Linked DNA regions of Homo sapiens. Changing the gene in region 1 together with any one later gene gives a genetic interaction. Each region holds a gene or a part of one and is shown in the gene's direction. Other genes may lie near its edges. The genes, in order: PARP1, RRM2 and CHEK1.

What was found.
Region 2: changes in PARP1 (region 1) and RRM2 together harm fitness more than expected from each alone (negative genetic interaction), as found in Homo sapiens cells (one large-scale study listed by BioGRID).
Region 3: changes in PARP1 (region 1) and CHEK1 together harm fitness more than expected from each alone (negative genetic interaction), as found in Homo sapiens cells (one large-scale study listed by BioGRID).

What each region holds. Positions count from the first base shown.
Region 1 is NC_000001.11:226,380,519-226,384,171, reverse strand, and holds part of PARP1 (poly [ADP-ribose] polymerase 1), read left to right. Parts: intron 1-988; coding exon 989-1,136; intron 1,137-2,963; coding exon 2,964-3,104; intron 3,105-3,653. UniProt on the Homo sapiens protein: Poly-ADP-ribosyltransferase that mediates poly-ADP-ribosylation of proteins and plays a key role in DNA repair.
Region 2 is NC_000002.12:10,128,738-10,131,978, forward strand, and holds the end of RRM2 (ribonucleoside-diphosphate reductase subunit M2), read left to right. Parts: intron 1-110; coding exon 111-215; intron 216-303; coding exon 304-417; intron 418-496; coding exon 497-649; 3' UTR 650-2,677; downstream 2,678-3,241. UniProt on the Homo sapiens protein: Provides the precursors necessary for DNA synthesis. Catalyzes the biosynthesis of deoxyribonucleotides from the corresponding ribonucleotides. Inhibits Wnt signaling.
Region 3 is NC_000011.10:125,638,613-125,642,265, forward strand, and holds part of CHEK1 (serine/threonine-protein kinase Chk1), read left to right. Parts: intron 1-3,653. UniProt on the Homo sapiens protein: Serine/threonine-protein kinase which is required for checkpoint-mediated cell cycle arrest and activation of DNA repair in response to the presence of DNA damage or unreplicated DNA.

The sequences.
Region 1 (3,653 bases):
AGATGGCTGTGCTTAGGCAGTCCCCTGTGTTTTCAGCTCCCAGTGGGCTTAGCAGATCACTGCCTCCAAGTGCATGCTAGCATTCCCTGTCTCACATCACCTTGGCACACCTCTGGCATAGCTTAGCTCCTTTGTTAAAGTTCACCTTCCTATAGCTGATGCTCAGTCACGAATGAGATACTTTCTGAAGAGCAGAAACTGTCTTTTTAACCAGACTATGGTTGGTAGCACATATTAGGTGGTCTGTGTGTGTCGGAAGCAATCTGTGACCTCTTGTATCTAACTGACATCCTGAACACAGGCATAGCTGGAAAGGGCAGTTTCTTGATTGGATGAAGACCTGGGAGCACAGTATCTTTCCCTGAGCTTCATGTATTTGATACTTATTGAGTGACCATTTAGAGCAAGGCCCCTTGTAAATCAGTCAGAGTGAAGAGTGAATTGTGCTGATGGAAGAATTTATAGTGAATACCATAGGGCTCCCTGCATTCATTTTTCCTTCTTCTAAAAAGGAAAGCAAATACTGTGATTTCCTTTTGGGTAATAATCTCCCAGTGTGTATATAGTATTCGGGGTCTTGGAGTTCTGGAGTAGGCATGTGATCCCACAGAGGCCTATTAACTCTCGAAGGGAGCAACTCAGGAATGAGGCCAGGGAGGTTGTAGTCATACAGCAGTTCCAGTGGTGGTTCCCTGACCGAATTGGCCACTGGTTTCTGTTTTTGTTTTTTTTAGGGAAAGATTTTTCTCTTAAAGCAGCCACAATATTAGCCCTATTATAAATGTAAAAGTACCGGAAATAAGTACTGTAGCAGCAATAATACTGTCTTTCATCCTTAAAGCCTCACATTTTTCTATTTTTTGTTACTCTTTATTGTAAGAAGAAAAAAAGAGATTATTTGATTTGGACAAGCCAAATCCTCTTTGGTCTATGGGGTGGTTACCTCAAGGGAGAGCTGGCTTCTTAACTAAAACTTAATATTTTTTAGGAATTCCGAGAAATCTCTTACCTCAAGAAATTGAAGGTTAAAAAACAGGACCGTATATTCCCCCCAGAAACCAGCGCCTCCGTGGCGGCCACGCCTCCGCCCTCCACAGCCTCGGCTCCTGCTGCTGTGAACTCCTCTGCTTCAGCAGGTACAGCATTTGGGACCCCGGTCTTAGAGCTGCTTTGCAGGAATTGTTTGCCCACTACTTGCTGGTGGTGTGGAGCTGGTGAAGAAAGTATCCGTCAAGGGTCTCTCTTTGCTGACCCCACCATGGGGAAGCCTTGCCCTGCAGGGGATAGGCCTCTTCTCTTGGCTTGTTACACCCCTGACCACAGCAAGGTGGGAGAGTGTTAAGAACATAGCATCGGCTGGGAGCAGTGACTCACACCTGTAATCCCAGCACTTTAGGAAGCTGAGGCAAAAGAATTGCTGAGGCCAGGAGTTTGAGACCAACCTGGGCAATGTAGTGAGACCCCATCTCTACAAAAATGTTTAAAATTAATCCGAGTATGTGCCTTTAGCCCTAGATACTCAGGAGGCTGAGGCGGAGGATCCCTTGAGCCTGGGAGGTCAAGGCTGCACTGAGCTATGATCACGCTAATGCACACCAGCTTGGGCGATGGAGTGATACCCTATCTCTAAAAATAAAATAAACATTGTAGAAGAACAAGCAGCTCTTACTCTGGGAGGCTAGGAGAGGGGCTCCTAAGAAAGGCTAGGTCGACAGCCTTACCTGGAGTTGGGCGCAGGGTCTCCTGCCTGACTGCACTGCAGAGGAGCATCCCAGGCCTCACTCTCCAGGCTGCCCTGCGCCCACCAGTCATCCGGGCCCTGGTGTGATGCTCAAGTCTCTGTTGTATGCAGAGGGAGTTACTAATCAGCACTAGTGAGAAATGCCCCAAGCCAACCAAGACAGTGAGAGCAACGTATTTTTTTGGCAGGAGAAGTGACCCGCTGCTTGTTTACTCAGAGACATGTGGCATAGTCTATTGGTGAAGGTCACAGTTTGGTGGGTGGAGGATGAGGGTTCCTTCCTTGAACATAAACCTGTTATTGACTTCCTTTTCATATCCTGAGAGGGGACCAGTGGTCACTGCAGTGTGTGCTGGTGGTCATCCCGAGTCCACTGTGCTGCTGGCAGCCTGGGTCCAGGTGCCCACATGAAGGGCCAGTTGGGGGCTGGCATTCTGACCCCTCCATGGAGGGTTCCCTCCTCTGCTTTCCCCTGACTTGCAGTTCAGCATGAGTCAATAATTTTGTTCTCTGGAGACCTCAGCAGTTTCAGTTAAACTGTCAGTGTTTCCTAGTTGTTTGCCCTCACAGGGAAGGCAGGAAGGACTTTTCCTTGCAGCTACTCCAGTTCTGGACGGGTGTCACCTGCACTGTGTTGTTTGCTGTGAACAGAAGGCACACCCCTGTCCAGGCCTTTCTGGCCTGGGTCAGTGCACACCAGGCTGCTGCTTTTCTCCTAGAATCAGTTAGCTCAGCTCCGTGTGATTGTGCTGGCCACTGCTTTGAGGGACTATCATGGACATGTCTCATTTTAAAATGGGGTTAATTCATAAGAATTGCAGTTTGTTTGGGAGAATAACAGAAGGAATTGGGGGTTCATGTGACCTTACCCCTCTTCCCATCCGACTCCAGCCTCCTGGTCCCTCGTCCGCAGATGCAGCCTTCCTAGCCTGACCTTGGCGCGGACCTGGGGTAACCCGCAGCTGCCTGGCTCACGCCGCGAGGCTGGCCTGGCCATGGAGTGGCATTTTGTGGCTTGCTCCCTGCCCAGTCCTTTCTGTGCTGAGGGACATCTGTAGGTACTCAGGTGGCAGCTTGCTGTCCCGTCCTGTTTTCTCGCGAGTGTATTTTCATAGGCTTTTCCCAGGAGCTCGCTGCTTGGCTCACCTGCTCCTCCACCTCCCCTTACTGGGGAGCAGCACCAGAGCTGGCCTTGCTGAATGATTCTCTCCTTTCATCCCAGATAAGCCATTATCCAACATGAAGATCCTGACTCTCGGGAAGCTGTCCCGGAACAAGGATGAAGTGAAGGCCATGATTGAGAAACTCGGGGGGAAGTTGACGGGGACGGCCAACAAGGCTTCCCTGTGCATCAGCACCAAAAGTGAGTTGAATCTGAATTTGTGCAACAGGGACAATGCTTCTGTATCTTATGATTGTGATGACGAGTAAGTGAGGAAGAGTCGAACACAGCGCTGAAAAACTGGATCTTAACATCATCATCGCTGTGGTTCTTTATGAAGGGAAACCAGTATTTGCTCTCAGTGTTGCTGCTTTGTACTGTAGATTCACATGCATTGCGTGTTCTCAACTAAAGACGGTAAGCTACTATAGGTTGAGTCTCCCTAGTCCCGAAGCCCAAACAAATTGCCTCAAAATTCAACACTTTTTGAGTGACAACATGATGCTCAAAGGAAATGTTCATTGGAGCATTTCAGATTTCAGAGTTTTGGATTAGATGCTCAGTCAGTAAATATGAAGCAAGTATTTTAAGGTCTGAAAGGTTTCTGGTCTCAAGCATCTCGGATAAGGGAAGCTGCTCAACCTGTATTCTCATCACTTCGCACTGCTCTGTAAGATGTGCATAGATATCTGCCAAAACAGAAGTTCAAGGTTCAAGTATGTTTGGAAAAGGTAGGGTAAAACAAAGCTA
Region 2 (3,241 bases), on another chromosome or scaffold:
TGGCTGAGCATGTTGGATAAGGAGAATGCAGAAAAGGACAAAGTAATTTCATATTCCATGTTAATGACAGAAGTCTTCTGGCTTTAGTGATCTTGAACTTTTTTTTCTAGGGTTTACACTGTGATTTTGCTTGCCTGATGTTCAAACACCTGGTACACAAACCATCGGAGGAGAGAGTAAGAGAAATAATTATCAATGCTGTTCGGATAGAACAGGTAAAGTGGGTGATGAAATGGGTCACTCAAGCTTGCTAGAAAATGCCTGTGCTTTAGTTGTATTCAGAAGCTGTATTTTGGTTCCTAGGAGTTCCTCACTGAGGCCTTGCCTGTGAAGCTCATTGGGATGAATTGCACTCTAATGAAGCAATACATTGAGTTTGTGGCAGACAGACTTATGCTGGAACTGGGTTTTAGCAAGGTAAAGTATTGTTTACATAGCCTTTTGCTTGTTTTGAAGCTGGTGCTCTGTATTTATATCTTGATGTGAACCTTTTCAGGTTTTCAGAGTAGAGAACCCATTTGACTTTATGGAGAATATTTCACTGGAAGGAAAGACTAACTTCTTTGAGAAGAGAGTAGGCGAGTATCAGAGGATGGGAGTGATGTCAAGTCCAACAGAGAATTCTTTTACCTTGGATGCTGACTTCTAAATGAACTGAAGATGTGCCCTTACTTGGCTGATTTTTTTTTTCCATCTCATAAGAAAAATCAGCTGAAGTGTTACCAACTAGCCACACCATGAATTGTCCGTAATGTTCATTAACAGCATCTTTAAAACTGTGTAGCTACCTCACAACCAGTCCTGTCTGTTTATAGTGCTGGTAGTATCACCTTTTGCCAGAAGGCCTGGCTGGCTGTGACTTACCATAGCAGTGACAATGGCAGTCTTGGCTTTAAAGTGAGGGGTGACCCTTTAGTGAGCTTAGCACAGCGGGATTAAACAGTCCTTTAACCAGCACAGCCAGTTAAAAGATGCAGCCTCACTGCTTCAACGCAGATTTTAATGTTTACTTAAATATAAACCTGGCACTTTACAAACAAATAAACATTGTTTGTACTCACAAGGCGATAATAGCTTGATTTATTTGGTTTCTACACCAAATACATTCTCCTGACCACTAATGGGAGCCAATTCACAATTCACTAAGTGACTAAAGTAAGTTAAACTTGTGTAGACTAAGCATGTAATTTTTAAGTTTTATTTTAATGAATTAAAATATTTGTTAACCAACTTTAAAGTCAGTCCTGTGTATACCTAGATATTAGTCAGTTGGTGCCAGATAGAAGACAGGTTGTGTTTTTATCCTGTGGCTTGTGTAGTGTCCTGGGATTCTCTGCCCCCTCTGAGTAGAGTGTTGTGGGATAAAGGAATCTCTCAGGGCAAGGAGCTTCTTAAGTTAAATCACTAGAAATTTAGGGGTGATCTGGGCCTTCATATGTGTGAGAAGCCGTTTCATTTTATTTCTCACTGTATTTTCCTCAACGTCTGGTTGATGAGAAAAAATTCTTGAAGAGTTTTCATATGTGGGAGCTAAGGTAGTATTGTAAAATTTCAAGTCATCCTTAAACAAAATGATCCACCTAAGATCTTGCCCCTGTTAAGTGGTGAAATCAACTAGAGGTGGTTCCTACAAGTTGTTCATTCTAGTTTTGTTTGGTGTAAGTAGGTTGTGTGAGTTAATTCATTTATATTTACTATGTCTGTTAAATCAGAAATTTTTTATTATCTATGTTCTTCTAGATTTTACCTGTAGTTCATACTTCAGTCACCCAGTGTCTTATTCTGGCATTGTCTAAATCTGAGCATTGTCTAGGGGGATCTTAAACTTTAGTAGGAAACCATGAGCTGTTAATACAGTTTCCATTCAAATATTAATTTCAGAATGAAACATAATTTTTTTTTTTTTTTTTGAGATGGAGTCTCGCTCTGTTGCCCAGGCTGGAGTGCAGTGGCGCGATTTTGGCTCACTGTAACCTCCATCTCCTGGGTTCAAGCAATTCTCCTGTCTCAGCCTCCCTAGTAGCTGGGACTGCAGGTATGTGCTACCACACCTGGCTAATTTTTGTATTTTTAGTAGAGATGGAGTTTCACCATATTGGTCAGGCTGGTCTTGAACTCCTGACCTCAGGTGATCCACCCACCTCGGCCTCCCAAAGTGCTGGGATTGCAGGCGTGATAAACAAATATTCTTAATAGGGCTACTTTGAATTAATCTGCCTTTATGTTTGGGAGAAGAAAGCTGAGACATTGCATGAAAGATGATGAGAGATAAATGTTGATCTTTTGGCCCCATTTGTTAATTGTATTCAGTATTTGAACGTCGTCCTGTTTATTGTTAGTTTTCTTCATCATTTATTGTATAGACAATTTTTAAATCTCTGTAATATGATACATTTTCCTATCTTTTAAGTTATTGTTACCTAAAGTTAATCCAGATTATATGGTCCTTATATGTGTACAACATTAAAATGAAAGGCTTTGTCTTGCATTGTGAGGTACAGGCGGAAGTTGGAATCAGGTTTTAGGATTCTGTCTCTCATTAGCTGAATAATGTGAGGATTAACTTCTGCCAGCTCAGACCATTTCCTAATCAGTTGAAAGGGAAACAAGTATTTCAGTCTCAAAATTGAATAATGCACAAGTCTTAAGTGATTAAAATAAAACTGTTCTTATGTCAGTTTCTTGATTGGTAAAATTTGCATTTTAATTCAGGAAGAGAAATATTTTTTGGCCAGGCATGGCTGTAATCCCAGCACTTTGGGAGACCAAGGTAGGCAGATCACCTGAGCTCAGGAGTTCGAGATCAGCCTGGCCAACATGGTGACACCCCATCTCTACTAAAAATACAAAAATTAGCCTGGCATGGTGGCACACGCCTGTAATCCCAGCTACTCGTGAGGCTGAGGCAGGAGAATCACTTGAACCCGGGAGGCAGAGGTTGCAGTGAGCTGAGATTGCACCGCTGCACTCCAGCCTGGGCAGCAGAGTGAGACTGTCTGAAAAAAAAAGGTGTTTTTTGTAAAGGCTAACGAATTCATTTGCTTTCCACTGGTTCTGGGCAAGAGACTTGCCTTGTGCCTATTGGCACAAGGTGTATAGGAGACAGGTACACCCGAAAGGTGGTGCCCAAAAATACTAACTGCCATACTGCACGTGGGGTTTGTGAAGCCGGGGCTGAGTTAACTTCTCAACCGTGGGGGAGCCACTCCTGGGGCTCTTTTCCCGTTTGCAAAACAGGTGG
Region 3 (3,653 bases), on another chromosome or scaffold:
GAAGCGGTAGGTGTTTTCTTTCCCATACCCTCATGTCCTTTGATCTGGACATGGTACAGGTGTCCTCCTTATTCTTCATTGTCACTTTCTCCCATCTTCCTTTATGTCTCTCCCCTCTAACTTTTGAACCCCAAATTAAAATTTCTGCCGTACTATCACAGTCTGCAAAATGACTCTTGATGTTATTTTCGTCATGATTCTTGGTGATTTAAATATTTATTTGGATCATCCTCCTGATATCCTGACTTCACTGTTTCTTGACCCTCTCTCCTATAGTGATGTTGTCTTTGAACACGCTGCACTGATCACCAGTATAATTTTTTCTGACTTCCTCCCTTAATATTCTAACTTAAACAGTCCTTTGTATCTGGACTTGCAATTAATTAATTCTATCTCTTCAGTCTCTTACCTGCTCCCTCTCTAGGTCCTTGATTTCATCTTTACCTATCTTAAATCTTTAGGTTAGTCATTATAAATGACTGCTTTGCGTTCATCATCTTCAATTTCCTTGTCCCCTTCTCTCTTCATCATACTTAGTGGGTAAAACCCAGTAAGTAGTTTCTGGGTTTAATCTAGTAGTTTTCTACGTACTGCACACTTGTACCTGCACAACAGATTGCAGCAGGAGAAAAATACCCAAAAATGTTCACTTTAAATTCAGGATTACTAATCTCAAGTGGGCCCTTAATGCTTCCTGGCATTTGGCCTTCGTTTCCCCACATCTTTCTCTGTCCTGTTCTCCTAAATCACGTTTTTATAATACTTTTCTCTTTTTTTTTTTTTTTTTTTTGAGACAGGGTCTAGGCTGGAGTGCAGTGGCGCCATCTCCACTCACTTCAACCTCTGCCTCTCAGGTTCAAGCGATTCGATTCTCGTGCCTTAGCCACCCGAGTAGCTGGGATTACAGGTGTGAACCACCACACCTGGCTAATTTTTATATTTTTAGTAGAGGTTTTGCCATGCTGGCCAGGCTGGTCTCAAACTCCTAGCCTCAAGTGATCCCCCTGCCTCAGCCTCCCAAAGTGCTGGGTTTATAGGTGTGAGCTACTGTGTCTGGTCCCTTAACTTTTATTATCTTCTCTCCATCCTCACTCTCAGTTGTTCACTTTGCTTCCTGTGTCACTGGGAAATGAAAGCCACAAGAGAACTTAGGCAAGCTCCCACCACCATCTCCTCCATACTAACTGCCTCTATGCTCATGTATTCTCTTTCATCCTGTATTGCTGTAGATAAATTGCTCTGGATGTAAGCCAGGTCTTTCTCTTACCCACTCAATGACTTTGTCTAGCAATTTTTCTCCCTCTCCTACATTATTAATTTTTCCTTCTCTACCGGATCTTTCTCATCAGCATATCTACATGCTTTTTCTCCCATTTTAAAATCAAATCATAATGGTAATAAAATTTCTCTTAACTCCACTTTTCCCTACCATTCCATCTTCTTCACAATTGAATATTCCTAAAATTGCTTCTCATCTCTAACACCTCAAAACTAGTTTTCAATTTCATCTATTTTGTTGCCAAGAGTCACAGTGATTTTTGGAACGTGTTGCCAAGTTCAATGTAATAGTCCACTGTGGTCAACCGAGGTCTGAAAAGATTAAATGGAAAGTACCAGAAGTAAACAATTCATCAATTCATGGGTTTTGGCCGGGCGCGGTGGCTCACGCCTGTAATCCCAGCACTTTGGGAGGCCAAGGCGGGCGGATCACGAGGTCAGGAGATCGAGACCATCCTGGCTAACACGGTGTCACCCCGTCTCTACTAAAAATACAAAAAATTAGCCGGGCGAGGTGGCGGTCGCCTGTAGTCCCAGCTACTCGGGAGGCTGAGGCAAGAGAATGGCGTGAACCCCGGGGGGCGGAGCTTGCAGTGAGCCGAGATCGCACCACTGCACTCCAGCCTGGGCAACAGCGAGACTCCGTCTCAAAAAAAAAAAAAAAGAAATTCATGGGTTTTATTTATTTATTTAATTCGAGACGGGATCTCGCTCTGTCGCCCAGACTGGAGTGCAGTGGCGTGGTCTCCACTTACTGAAACCTCTACCTCCTGAGCTTAAATGATCCTCCCATCTCAGCTTCCCGAGTAGCTGGGACTACAGGTGTGAGCCACTATGCCCGGCTAATTTTTGTATTTTTGGTAGAGATGAGGTTTCGCCATGTTGCCTATGCTTTTCTACCAAAAATACAAAAATTAGCCAGGTGTGGTGGTTCACGCCTGTAATCCCAGCTGTTCTCAAACTGCTGGGCTTAAGCAATCCACCCACCCCGGCCTCCCAAAGTACTGGGATTATAGGCATGAGCCACAATGCCCTGCCATAGGTTTTAAATTGTGTGCTGTTCTGAGTAGCATAATAAAATCTTGTGCTGTCCTACTTCATCTCACTTGGGATGTGAATCACTCCTTTTTCCAGTGTATTCACGTTCCATGTGCTACCTGCTTGTAACTCCCTTAGTAGCTGTTTTGGTTATTAGATCGAAAGAACATATATAGGGTTTGGTACCATTTGTACTTTCAGGCATCCACTTGAACATATCCCTCTGTGGATAAGGGGGGTACTACTGTAGTCAGTTCTCAGACCTCTTGTTTTATCTCATCAATATTTTATACAGTTGATCATGCCCTCCTCCTTTAAACACTTTCTTCATTTGGCTTCCAGGCGTTACACTCTTCTGATTTTCGTCCTTCTCACTGGTCGCTCTTTTCAGTCTCTTGATGGTTTTTTTTCATCTGCTCAGCCTCCTACTATTGGAGTTCTCCAGGGCTGAATCTATGGATCTCCTTTGTTTTCTTCTCCACACTCACTCCATTAGTGATATTACTTGGTTTCATGGCTCTAAATAAAACTATATGTTGATAGTCACATTTATATCAACCTAGACCTTTCCTCTGAATTCCAAACTTACATGTCTTAACTGCCTTCTGAAATTTCACTTGAATGTTAAGAGGCATCTCACACTTGATGAATTCCAAACTGAGTTACTGATCTTTTCCTTTCAAACCCATTCCTTTTCAAAGTCTTTCCCATGTTGGTTAATGGCAACTGCATTATTCTTATTATGCAGATCAGAAACTTTGGAATCATCCTTCATTTTTCTCATTCTCTTTTACTTCACATCCAGTACACCAGCTAATTCTGTTAACCTCTATCTTTAAAAAAATCTTAGAATCTGATTACCTTTTTTTTTTTTACCTCTACTGTTACCCTATCATTCCAAATTACCATGATATCTTTCCAAAATGTTCTGATTTAAAAGTGAATTAGAATATATCACTATTCTACCCAAATCCTCCAATGCTTTAGTTCTCACGTGTAGTGTAAGCTAAAATCAGTTCATGACCTGTGAGTTCTTACACAATTTTGTTCCTTACATTACCTCTCCAACCTCAGTTCTGCTTTGCTCCCCCTTGGTCATATTGTTGTTCTTCTTATTGTTCTCCAAGTGCTCTAGGCACACTTCTACCTCACTGTTTTTGTAGTGACTGTTCCTATGTCTGAAAATGCTTTTTCCCATGGGACTTATTTGCATGTCTTATTCTCTTACTTTCTTTGGATATTGACTTCAGTGTCATCTTTCCAATAAGCCTTTCCTGGCCATGCTATTTAAAATGGTATCCTCTTCCCTCTAACACATTTCTTAAATTTTTAAAATT